Regions from separate parts of the Homo sapiens genome. Here region 1 is linked to region 2. Evidence: fine-mapped expression QTL. A gene starts in region 2. The other region holds a variant in brackets. All regions are shown on one strand. Distances are from middle to middle.

Region 1 (5,380 bases), 420 kb before region 2:
ACTTATAATTTTACAACTATAATCCCTACTGTATGCATCATGAAAATGATAACACTTGGATGGCTCCAGTGAATCCTATGGCATTTTTTCTTATAATTTAAAATTATGGACCATATAGAGTATCTTAATAGCATATGGCCAAGTCTGTGTGATCATCTGAGGAGAATAATTTGGTTTCATTAAAAAATGCAAATTTAACAGTAGTGCATTAACTCATGCCAACCCCCCCACTCTCAGGACTATCACCAGGGACCTCCCACATGAAATCAATATGCATCCATCTATTTAACTTTTATCACTGGCTCACTAAGTAAATATCACACTATAGACCACTTAAGTATTCATTATTCAGGCAAATAGCAAGCGTCAGAAGCAGGCTGGTAGTGTCAAGTCGTTAACAAATCAATCAATAACTGCTCCCTGTTTGAGTCTACCAAATGAGGGCAAAGATGTGCAACATCTGGAGAGCAAAGCATTGACCTGCTGCCAAGGTGCAGTCTGTTTACGGCGTGGCATTCCATATTTACGCAGACTCTAAGAAAACCACTCAAGGAAACCTTAGTTGTATCATGCCTTTTCAGACTTTAATGAGCATTAAAACAGATCAGCCCATTGATACTATCCTTTAGACACCAAAAGTACTGAGATCCCCAAGGACCATACTGGGAGATGCCAGTTTTTTTGCTACCCACAGAGTCTAAGACTGAGGCGGAACTGGAAAATATGTGAGTGCATGAGGAGCAAATGGTTCAATCTTCGAAGCTTCATTTTAAGATTATTAAAGCAAGATTTTTAGCATTTTATGGGGACCACATGTATGTAGAGACAGCTAACCCTCCCCCCGCCACAAGAGGCCAAGAATGGCTCCAGTTTTTGCAAAGAAGTCACATATTTTTTTCAAGTGTGAGTCCCATTTAACATCACACTCATGTGCCAAGTGCCTGAGAATATCATCTTTTGCACATGAATTTCAGGATGATGGCTACTCCTGTCTGTCTCAGGTTACAGAAAGCCAATACATGGTACTATATCTGAAGTCACTTACCTCTCTTGTCAGCTAAAAGACAGTGAAAATGAAATGAAGAAAAGGAAGCTCAGTCACTAGAATAAAGTTAAGCCTCACAACTGCTTCCTCAATTTATACGTGATAAAAACCAGAATGAAGCAACAGACTGCAAAAAGTGTTGTCCATCTTTTTCTCTCATCATTCCAAAATCCAACAGCAAGAGACTTGACTCAAAGCCATATAAACCTATTGATTATAAATAGCTATTAATTATAAATAAGGCAAATAATAAAAGCTATTAATTATAATGAGGAGAATTGAAGGCAATCTCAGGTCATGGCAGATCAAATATCCACCATTGGCAAGAGGAAAAAAAGACCCTCTCTCACTTCTTACTCACATCTGTGACTTGATCTATGGTAATAACATGACTATTTGTCATCAAACACAGAGGTTAACATTGGCGTGCACACACACATCCCTGCTGGAAGCAAGCCGTGCTGGGTTTTAAATGAACCTGCACTGTATTTATTTACCCTGCTGTCTTATTTCCTGGGTAGAAAGTTTAATTAATACTTCACCCAGAAATAATCCACACAAGAAATAGCTTCACTGGGAGTAAAAGTCATAACAATAGCTTTCTTACTGCATTTTCTTTCTCTTCAATGGAAATCTCACCCTCCTCCTTTCTGTCCCAGTGATGAATGTGGAGTCAATAAAATAAACCACAAAGAACAAGAAAAAAGTTGGAAAACATCCTTTCATTGCCTCTTTATCTAAGATGCTCACTGTACACCATAATTCCAGAGCACAAATTAAAGCAGGCTCTTGTCACCCTAGCAAACTGGACTGTGATGTCACACCCATTACATTCTTCTTTTTATCATGTAACAGCCAGGATGCTAGAAACAAGTTGCAACATGTGTGGTCCGCCCCACCCCCAGCACCCCGGCAGAAACCGCACCCCACTTCCCATAGCCACGTTCTTCCCCAGACCTTACCCTGCCCAAGAGGTTGTCCTGAAGTAATGTCTGCTGCAGCACTGGGGCCACCTCCTCCAAGCTCAACATGTGGCAAAGGTCGGTGAGTTCCTCCTGCCCCAGGGACCCTGTGCCCGTCGTGTCAAAACTGTCAAACAGCTCCTTGAGTCGGGCCTCATGCTGGTCCTGCTCCACCTCATCCATCCCATAGCCCACAGTGCTCACCTGTGTGTAAGACAGAGACAAGGACAGGTTGTGGCAGCCTCTCCAGTCCTACCGTGGTCACCACCTGGCACATTCCCGTTCTCTGTACCCCACCAGTCTCTAGGGAATGCTCGGGAACACCCAGTTTCTGATGCACCCCACAGCAAGACCCCCAGTCTCTGTAGGACCAGCCCTGGCCAGTGACACTCCTGCATGCACTCACATCAGGGGCATATACATAAGCTCAGATCACACTGGGAGCAAAATTACCAGAATGAGAGGGTCACGTACAGTAGAAGACACCCTCCTCTCTTGCCTGGTTCTCAGGCGGACAGCCAGACTGCCAAACTCAAGGCTGAAGGTGGTTCTCTCCCAGCTCTTCTAGCCCAGGATTTTAAGAAGGTGAAAAGCCACTTTGACAGCAAGACTATTCAAGTGAACTAATTGTTAGCGCCAGCAGACTGCATGGTCAGAGCTTCCATGCTAGCTGGCAAGCTTTAGACAACCTGCCCCGATGGTGCAATCGGTCAGCGTGGCCAAGCTGATTCGTTCTACTTCATTCAGCTTAGATGGCCCCCATCATAGCTAGACTGGAGGGCTGCAGCAAGAGGCACTAAATGAACACGACGTCTGCTACAAAACCACCTCCCTGTTTTACATGAAACTAAATGCCTTTTACACGAGTTCCTCAAAAAGCAACTCAATTAACTTCACTGGTGCAATTACATGAGGTGTGACGGGAAGAATATTCCCAGAAGCTTGCTTTAGTCCCAGCGAGTTTTAGGTAATGCTTAGTTGCCTAGAGAAAGGGGAAGACACTATTTCAACCTTTCAGACAGTGAGGTTTAAAGGAGCCACTGACTGGTTTATATGAATCATACAGCATCTCAGGGAACCTCCACTCACTAAAGCATCTCATCTCTTTATGCCTGGTTAACCTGTGTTCCGTCTCTCTCACCTACCCATACTCCAGGCTTTCCATTTTGCCACTGTCCTTAGGATCAGTAAAAACTTGGAGACGTCAATAACTGAGTCATTTTTGTTAAAAATATACATCATAAAATTCCAGGTAGCTCGTATTTTACTAATGAAATCTGTGGTTTTTTTTTTTTCCTTGCATGACAGTTCATTTTTAACGTGCTGGATTTTCC[G/A]ATGAAAGCCTGAAACCTGCACATCTGAAGATGCCTTCGCCATGATGCAATGGATGCCAAACACGACATACACCCTTGGGACGGTGACCTCAGCCATCTGCAACAAGGCTCTCAGAACCAGTCCTTTGACTATAAAAAAAGCAGCAGCTTTCACTAACCAAGCATCTTTAATCCAAGCCAAATTACAGAACTCTCTAACTTAGAGGTGATCGTCCATACGGCAGATCATTACAACATGAAAAACGTAAGCTAAGATGTTGAACACAGCCAGAACTGAAAATAAAAGAGCTTTCTAAAACAAATCAATGTTGCTCTAGGTTGTGTTTGCTTTCTTTCCATAGACAGCTGTTCAAAACATGACAAGCTACAACAGGGCCACGATCTTGCCAGGGGTTTCAGCAGAACTGGGTGGACACAGAAGATAAATGTGAACAGCTCTGCCATACAGCTCAGTTTTTACTGGGGCCACTCATTAAAGTAAAGCAACATGGCACAATTTTGGTCCAGGTTCCTGGTCTTGGACAGGTCTCTTCTCCTAATTATCAGTTTTTCTGTTACTAAGGTGCTGCAGGCTCTGGCTGTCTTCCCAGGATTGGTCTGTTGGGTTAACTAATCACTATGTAAATGTTTTCAAAATAAGTTGAGAGTGTTATATAAACATCAAAGCCTCAGAAAAGAAACACCAAGTTGTTATGCAAAGCCACAGGAGTTAAGAATTTAGACAAGGCCAACACTTCGCTAACAAGATTCACTTAGAGTCCACCAGTTAATTGTCAACTAAGATCTGCTGAGAATCCCCAAGGTGCTCCAGGATTTTCAGTGTTGCGGTAGCTCTTAGTCTCACTCTGAGTTTTACAGTCCCCTGGGCTGTTATCTGACCGACCTCATAAAAGCAAGACTCTTCTTTTGCTTGATTTTGCATATATGTTTAAAAACTCAAAAGCGAAAGAATTCTAACACTTCCCTTTTTAAAAATTATTTTTAAGGGGCGGGGATTTGTCCATCTTAAACCAATGAAAGAGAGGAATAAAACACTGATGTACTGAGAAGCCCTGATCTTATCCACGGTGTCGAATTTGATATACTATCATGCCCCACTCTTTGGGAGGTCATTGGATTTTCACTAAATCAAACCTCTTTCATTTTATGGCAGCTTTCTTTTCTTTATCTCTTTATTTCATCTCCTTCCTTCTCAAAACACTGTGCTTGACTGAAGGGGAGACAAGCACCACCCCTGTGGAACAAATGCTCACGCTGAAACATCCAGGAGATGTTACGCATGGTGACAAGTTGTCAGTGCTCATCTGGCACAGAAGGCATTTTTACTGGTTGATATTATTTCCCAAATGTTCATCAGTAATTTCATGTGCAAGAATTTTTTTCTCCCCACTTGGCAGAAAGTTCTTTAATGGTAAGATCCACGCTCCTATTTCTTTTATATCTTCCCCCAAATGCATACTACAGTCAGTCTGTTCTTCAAGCCAGGGATTTGGTAAATATCATGGATTGACTTCCTGTATGGATCACTCCTTGAGAGGAAACGTACCCTAAATGAGGTCTACAGAAATGGGCATATGAAAATTTTGGAATGCCCATCTCATCCACCTACACACCTCCACTTCCCCCATCCCACCCTTTCTCAAAGGCATTTTCAGCCTCCTAAGCAAGAAGTAGAAAGCCAACACCAACTGCCAATCTGTAACATGCAGCGCTGTCTGAAGTTTAATTCAATAGGCTAGTAATTAAGTAAATGGATTCACAAACTTCGACTGCATTGTCTTGCTATGGGATGAAACTTTGGAGGAGAATCTATACTAAAACCTTTCTCAAGTCCCCTCGATTACAGCATGAGAATAACAATATCCATCTGGAAGGTTTGTTCTGAGAGTTAAATGTGGCAAGCAAGCGAGAGTGGCTAATTCCAGAGAAAGCTGATACAAGAGGGAATTTAAGATAACCAAAAGAATACCTGCAGCTACAAAGGAGTGGTAAACTGAAGAGGAGGTAACAAGTGAATTATCTACAGATCTACCTCCAAA
Region 2 (5,380 bases):
AAAAAGAATTATACACCATGGCTAAGTGGGATTTATACCAAGAATGCAAGGTTGATTTCATGTCCCAAAATCAATCAATGTAATACACTGTATCTTTGGGAGGCTGAGGCAGGCAGATCATGAGGTCAAGAGAAAGAGACCATCCTGGCCAACATGGTGAAACCCCGTCTCTACTAAAAATATAAAAATTACCTGGGCGTGGTGGCACGTGCCTGTAATCCCAGCTACTCGGGAGTTGAGGCAAGAGAATTGCTTGAATCCAGGAGGCGGAGGTTGCAGTGCGCTGAGATCACACCACTGCACTCTAGCCTAATGACAGAGCAAGACTCCGTCTCAAAAAAAAAAAAAAAAAAAAAACAAAAAAAACACCATATCAATAGAGTAAAGGACAAAAACCACATGGTCATTTCAATAAATGCAGAAAAAGGATTTGTCAAAATTCAACACTTCTTCAAGATAAAAACAGACGACCTTCTAGGAATAGAAGGAAACTTCCTCACCTGTATAAAAGGCAACTATTTAGAATTCACATTAACATCATACTTAGTGGTAAAAGACAACGCTTTTCTCCTAAGAACAGGAACAAGATAAGTATGTTTGGCCACTCTTGCCATTTCTATTCAACATTGTAATGGAGGTCTAGTGTCTTAGCTTGGGCTGCCATAATAAAATATCATAGACTGGGTGGCTTAAACAATAGAAATTTATTTTCTCACAAATTTAGGAAGTTCTCATTGTACTCAAGGCAAGAAAACTCTGGACTAGGGTGTTGGCTGTTGAGATGGAAATTGGTGGTCAGATTCAGGATACGTTTTGAAGGTAACGTTTACAAGATTTGCTCATAGGTTACAAGAGGAGAAGGTGAAGAGAGAGAACAATAAAGAATTAACATGTACATGTTTGGCTAGAGAAACCTGGTGAACCTCGGGGCTCTTTAGTGGATGGAAGACCAGGAGAGGAAGAATCAAGAATTATCTTTTTTGGCCGTTTGATGTTTGAGCTTCTGAACCCCCAAAATCTGAGACAGGTCTCAGTCAATTTAGGAAGTTTATTTTGCCAAAATTAAGAATGCGCGCCCATGACATAGCCTGAGGAGGTGCTGAGGACATGTGCCTAAGGTGGGTGGAGCACAGCTTGATTTTATATTATATATTTTAGGGAGACATGAGACATCAATCAACATATGTAAGATGAACATTGTATTGGCCTGGAAAGGTGGGACAACTCAAAGCAAAGGCGGGACAAACTCGAAGCCAGGAAGGGGCTTCCAGGTCATAGGTGGGTAAGAGACAAATGGTGGCATTCTTCTAAGTTTCTGATTAGCCTTCCAAAGGAGGCAATCAGATATGCATTTATCTCAGTGAGAAGAAGGATGAGAGGCAGGTTTGCCCTAAGCAGTTCCCAGCTTGACTTTTCCCTTTAGCTTAATGATTTTGGGGCCCCAAGATTTCTTTTCCTTTCACCAGCTATTACATACCCAAGAGATGTTTAGCAAGGAGTTGAATACATATGCCTGTAGTTCCCAGAAGGATCAGAGTCTGAATGATATACAGTTGAATACATATGCCTGTAGTTCCCAGAAAGATCAGAGTCTGAATGATATACAGTTGAATACATATGCCTGTAGTTCCCAGAAAGATGAGAGCCTGATGATATGAAGAGAAAGGTGGCGGGAGATGGGGGGCGGGGGGCAGTAAAGCATCCTGGAGATGCCGATGTCCGGAAGTAAAGGAGGACCAGCCAAGAAGTTTGAGAAGAATCAGCTACTGTAGGACAGAAAAAAAAGCGAGCTGCCCAGACAGCAAGATAGTAAAGTGTTTCAAGGGTGTGGTAGAATGGGGCTAGGAGTCATGCTAGATGCATTGAGAAGAAACAATTGGGATTTATCTTGCTGGTCGCTGGTGTCCTTGAGAGGGCTATTCAGTGGAGGGGTGGGGAAGGGGACTAATTGGGGTTAATTAAGTTGAAAAGGTGAGGTAAGATAGTGGCAACTATTTCCTTGAGACTTAGTCTCTCTCTATAGCCCAGATTGGAGTGCAGTGGAATGATCTCGGTTCACTGCAACCTCCGCCTCCCGGGTTCAAGCGATTCTCCTGCCTCAGCCTCCTGAGTAGCTGGGACTACAGGCGCCTGCCACCACGCCTGGCTAATTTTTGTATTTTTAGTAGAGACGGGGTTTCACTATGTTGGTCAGGCTGGTCACAAACTCCTGACCTCAAGTGATCCGCCTGCCTTGGCCTCCCTGTTTTGCTAGGATTACAGGCGTGAGCCACCGCACCTGCAACTATTTTCATTTGACTGATGGGGCAGTGCACATTTTGGTTTGCATTTGTATTTACGAATGTTTGAGAGAAAAAACTCAAATATCTTACAAGCCTATGTGTCTGGTTCCATTTTGAAGTACTGACCTAGGATCTCTGTACCTACTGAATTTTTTTTGAGAGATAACATACACCTGAAAGTGCATAAAGTGCACTGTCTTAAAATGTACAGCTTGATCCTTCTTTAAAAAAAATCATATACGTACGCCCATGTAACTACTGTTCATATCTAGATGTTGAACACCTCCAACACATCCAACATAACCATAATGTTCCTCTGCACCTTCCCTGTCTATAATCTCTCAGAAGTAAACCAATATTCCGACTCCTATAAAATCCATTAGCTTTACTACATGTTTCAAAGAAAACAAATGAGAACTCTGAAGGACATTTAATTGGAAAACTGCTTTAGCACATTATAAACTTACCAATTTGCTTGTAAACGCTAACCATTTGGCGCCAAAATCCTGGGAGGGTCTTTTAAACCGTTCTTCCTCAAAGCACCGCCCCACTTTTTACACCACGCCTCCTTTTGCTCTGTTCCTTCCCCCACAATATTGGGACACCCTAGGCGGTAGAAGCAGCCGCTTTTCTGTCATGCGCATTGCGGAGAGTCGTTCTTCCCTCTTTCCCGACTTCACCACTCACTGGGATCAGACCCCTGTCATGCGCATTGAGAGTCCTCTAGACAGGCGCTCCTCGCAGCACCGTAGTGCGCTTGCGCTGAGCAGCCCGCGAGGGCGGAAGTGGGAGCTGCGACCGCGCTCCCTGTGAGGTGGGCAAGCGGCGAAATGGCGCCCTCCGGGAGTCTTGCAGTTCCCCTGGCAGTCCTGGTGCTGTTGCTTTGGGGTGCTCCCTGGACGCACGGGCGGCGGAGCAACGTTCGCGTCATCACGGACGAGAACTGGAGAGAACTGCTGGAAGGAGACTGGATGATAGAATTGTGAGTGCGGGGCGGCCAGGGTCCTACGTCCGTGCCTGGACACACGACTTCACCCCGCACGTTCCTCGTGCGGGTCGCAGGCTCCCCAGGACTGCGCCTCCGAGTTGCGGAGCGAGCGTCCCCGACTTCTGCAGCTCCCCAAACTCTTGGGATCTGCCGCCAGCTTGGTCCCACCCCCTCGTCTCTTACCCGTGAATGTTAAGTTTCTTCTGGGGTGCACCCTCGTTTCGTTTCTTGGGTTGTGGTGCGCCCAAAGGGTTAGTGCCAATGCGAATTCTGACATTTTTCATGACTTTGAGGATGCGACTGGGGCGCGGGGAGGGAGGTGTCCGACTCGTGTCTAAGTAGTTAAAGTGATTCTTCACAGACTTCTACACTTATTTTCACCACATTTTACATAAGAGAATATTGAGCAAAATTTCTCCTCTCGTTTTGTCTGTCCTTAAAAGATAGTCTCTTTATGGTGTTGGAATTTGGCGCTTTTAAGCTTTTTTTAATGGATTGGGTACGTTTCTTTTTTATTGTAAATACTGAGTCAATTCAAGTTGGGTTATTTTTAAGTTTTCGTTTTCTCTTTTTGCCTCCTCTTTTGCTTTCTCTTTTTTTCACTCCTCATCTCATTTTTCCTTTGGGTGTCTTTGTAGTGTAGAGAATACCTTGGGTTGTGACTCCTAGGTCTTTGTAAATGGTATTACATTAAAAGATAATGTATTAATGTATACACTCTCAAGAGCGCCAGGTCATCATTTATTGCTCGAACGAAATCATGTATTTTGTGTGGTGATTTCAATTTAATAATATCTGTTCTGCCGCGGTGGGAAATAAAGTATCTGTCTTTGCTTTAGATGCTAAGTCGTTGTTGATGGTGGTATTATACATATTAGCAGTATTTACTGATAATAGTAAAAGCATAATTATTAACAGTGTACTGGACACCACTAAGCACCTTTACACGAATACCATATTTAATTCCCTACAAATTCTCTATGACAGGTGTTTTTCACGTTTTACAAATGAGTAACAAGATACCTAAATACTTTAGTTAACCTATGCAGATATTGCTGTGCTGGCTTTCTTTGGGTCTTCAGAGTAGGCATACAATAATTGTTGTTAGAACACCTTCTTCTTTAAAAAGGTTCAGCTGGAAGTGGCGTACGCTACCCAGGAGATTGAGGTATGAGGATGACTTGAGCCCAGGGGTTCAAGAGATCCTGGGCAACTAGCAAAATAAATAAGTAAATAAATAAAAATGAAAAGACAACAGGGTTCAGGTGAGTGTTTTCTTGTGTCACGAATACAGCAAGGGTTGTCAAGTTAAGGAGGCCAGTGAAAGTGACATCCCCAAGGGAGAACCCAGAAGGCTAAATCAGTAAGTCCTGTGTTATTTTTTAAAAAAACAAAACTGGCCGGCGCGGTGGCTCACGCCTGTAATCCCAGCACTTTGGGAGGCCGAGGCCGGTGGATCACGAGGTGAGGAGATCGAGACCATCCTGGCTAACACGGTGAAACGCCGTTTGTACTAAAAATACAAAAAATTACCTGGGCGTGGTGGCACGCGCCTGTAGTCCCAGCTACTCGGGAGGCTGAGGCAGAAGAATCGCTTGAATCTGGGAGTCAGAGGTTGCAGTGAGCCGAGGTCGCACCACTGCACTCCAGCCTGGGCGACAGAGTGAGACTCAATCTCAAAAAAAAAGTAGAACATTTATATGGAGGGTAAGATAAAGGGAAATTTTCATAGTATGCATGTAGTCTGCAATTCTGAAATGAATTTTCATTCAGGCACCATTGAAAGCTTCAGGGGAGAGGAACTGTGACACTTTTTCAGTCATCATCATGAGTAACTTGTTTTAGATCGTGCCTGTAAAATAGTGTTATAAGCAATATATTAAGCAATAGTGATCGTGTGTGTATATGCAAAATACAGTCAAGTATTACTCAAGGATATTTTTTAACTCATTATGGTCCAACTATATAAATACAGCAATCAGAAGTAGTATTAAGGAGAACAAGACTAACAAAACATTGAGTATGAGGTAAATCCACATTGGAGCATCTATCTGAAATTATGCTATAGAGTAGTAGTTTTTCTTTTTCCTTAAGTAGAGATTCTAAAGTA

The links. PIP is the estimated chance that this variant, and not a neighbour inherited with it, causes the effect.
Region 1: its variant is fine-mapped to the expression of TMX1 in vagina (GTEx, PIP 0.95).

Annotation. Positions count from the first base shown.
Region 1 is chr14:50,819,867-50,825,246 of GRCh38, forward strand. It overlaps NIN (ninein), which reads right to left. Exons shown (of 31, transcript NM_020921.4): 3 at 2,008-2,211. The coding sequence starts at 2,190. It overlaps LOC105370489 (a long non-coding RNA gene), which reads left to right and starts at 1,931. Exons shown (of 2, transcript NR_135258.1): 1 at 1,931-2,085; 2 at 3,316-3,643. RefSeq lists an enhancer at 1,940-1,989 and a silencer at 2,450-2,509. The variant G/A (reference allele first, on the strand shown) is at 3,342.
Region 2 is chr14:51,237,181-51,242,560 of GRCh38, forward strand. It overlaps TMX1 (thioredoxin related transmembrane protein 1), which reads left to right and starts at 3,067. Exons shown (of 8, transcript NM_030755.5): 1 at 3,067-3,264. The coding sequence starts at 3,113. RefSeq lists a silencer at 2,903-3,245 and an enhancer at 3,106-3,345.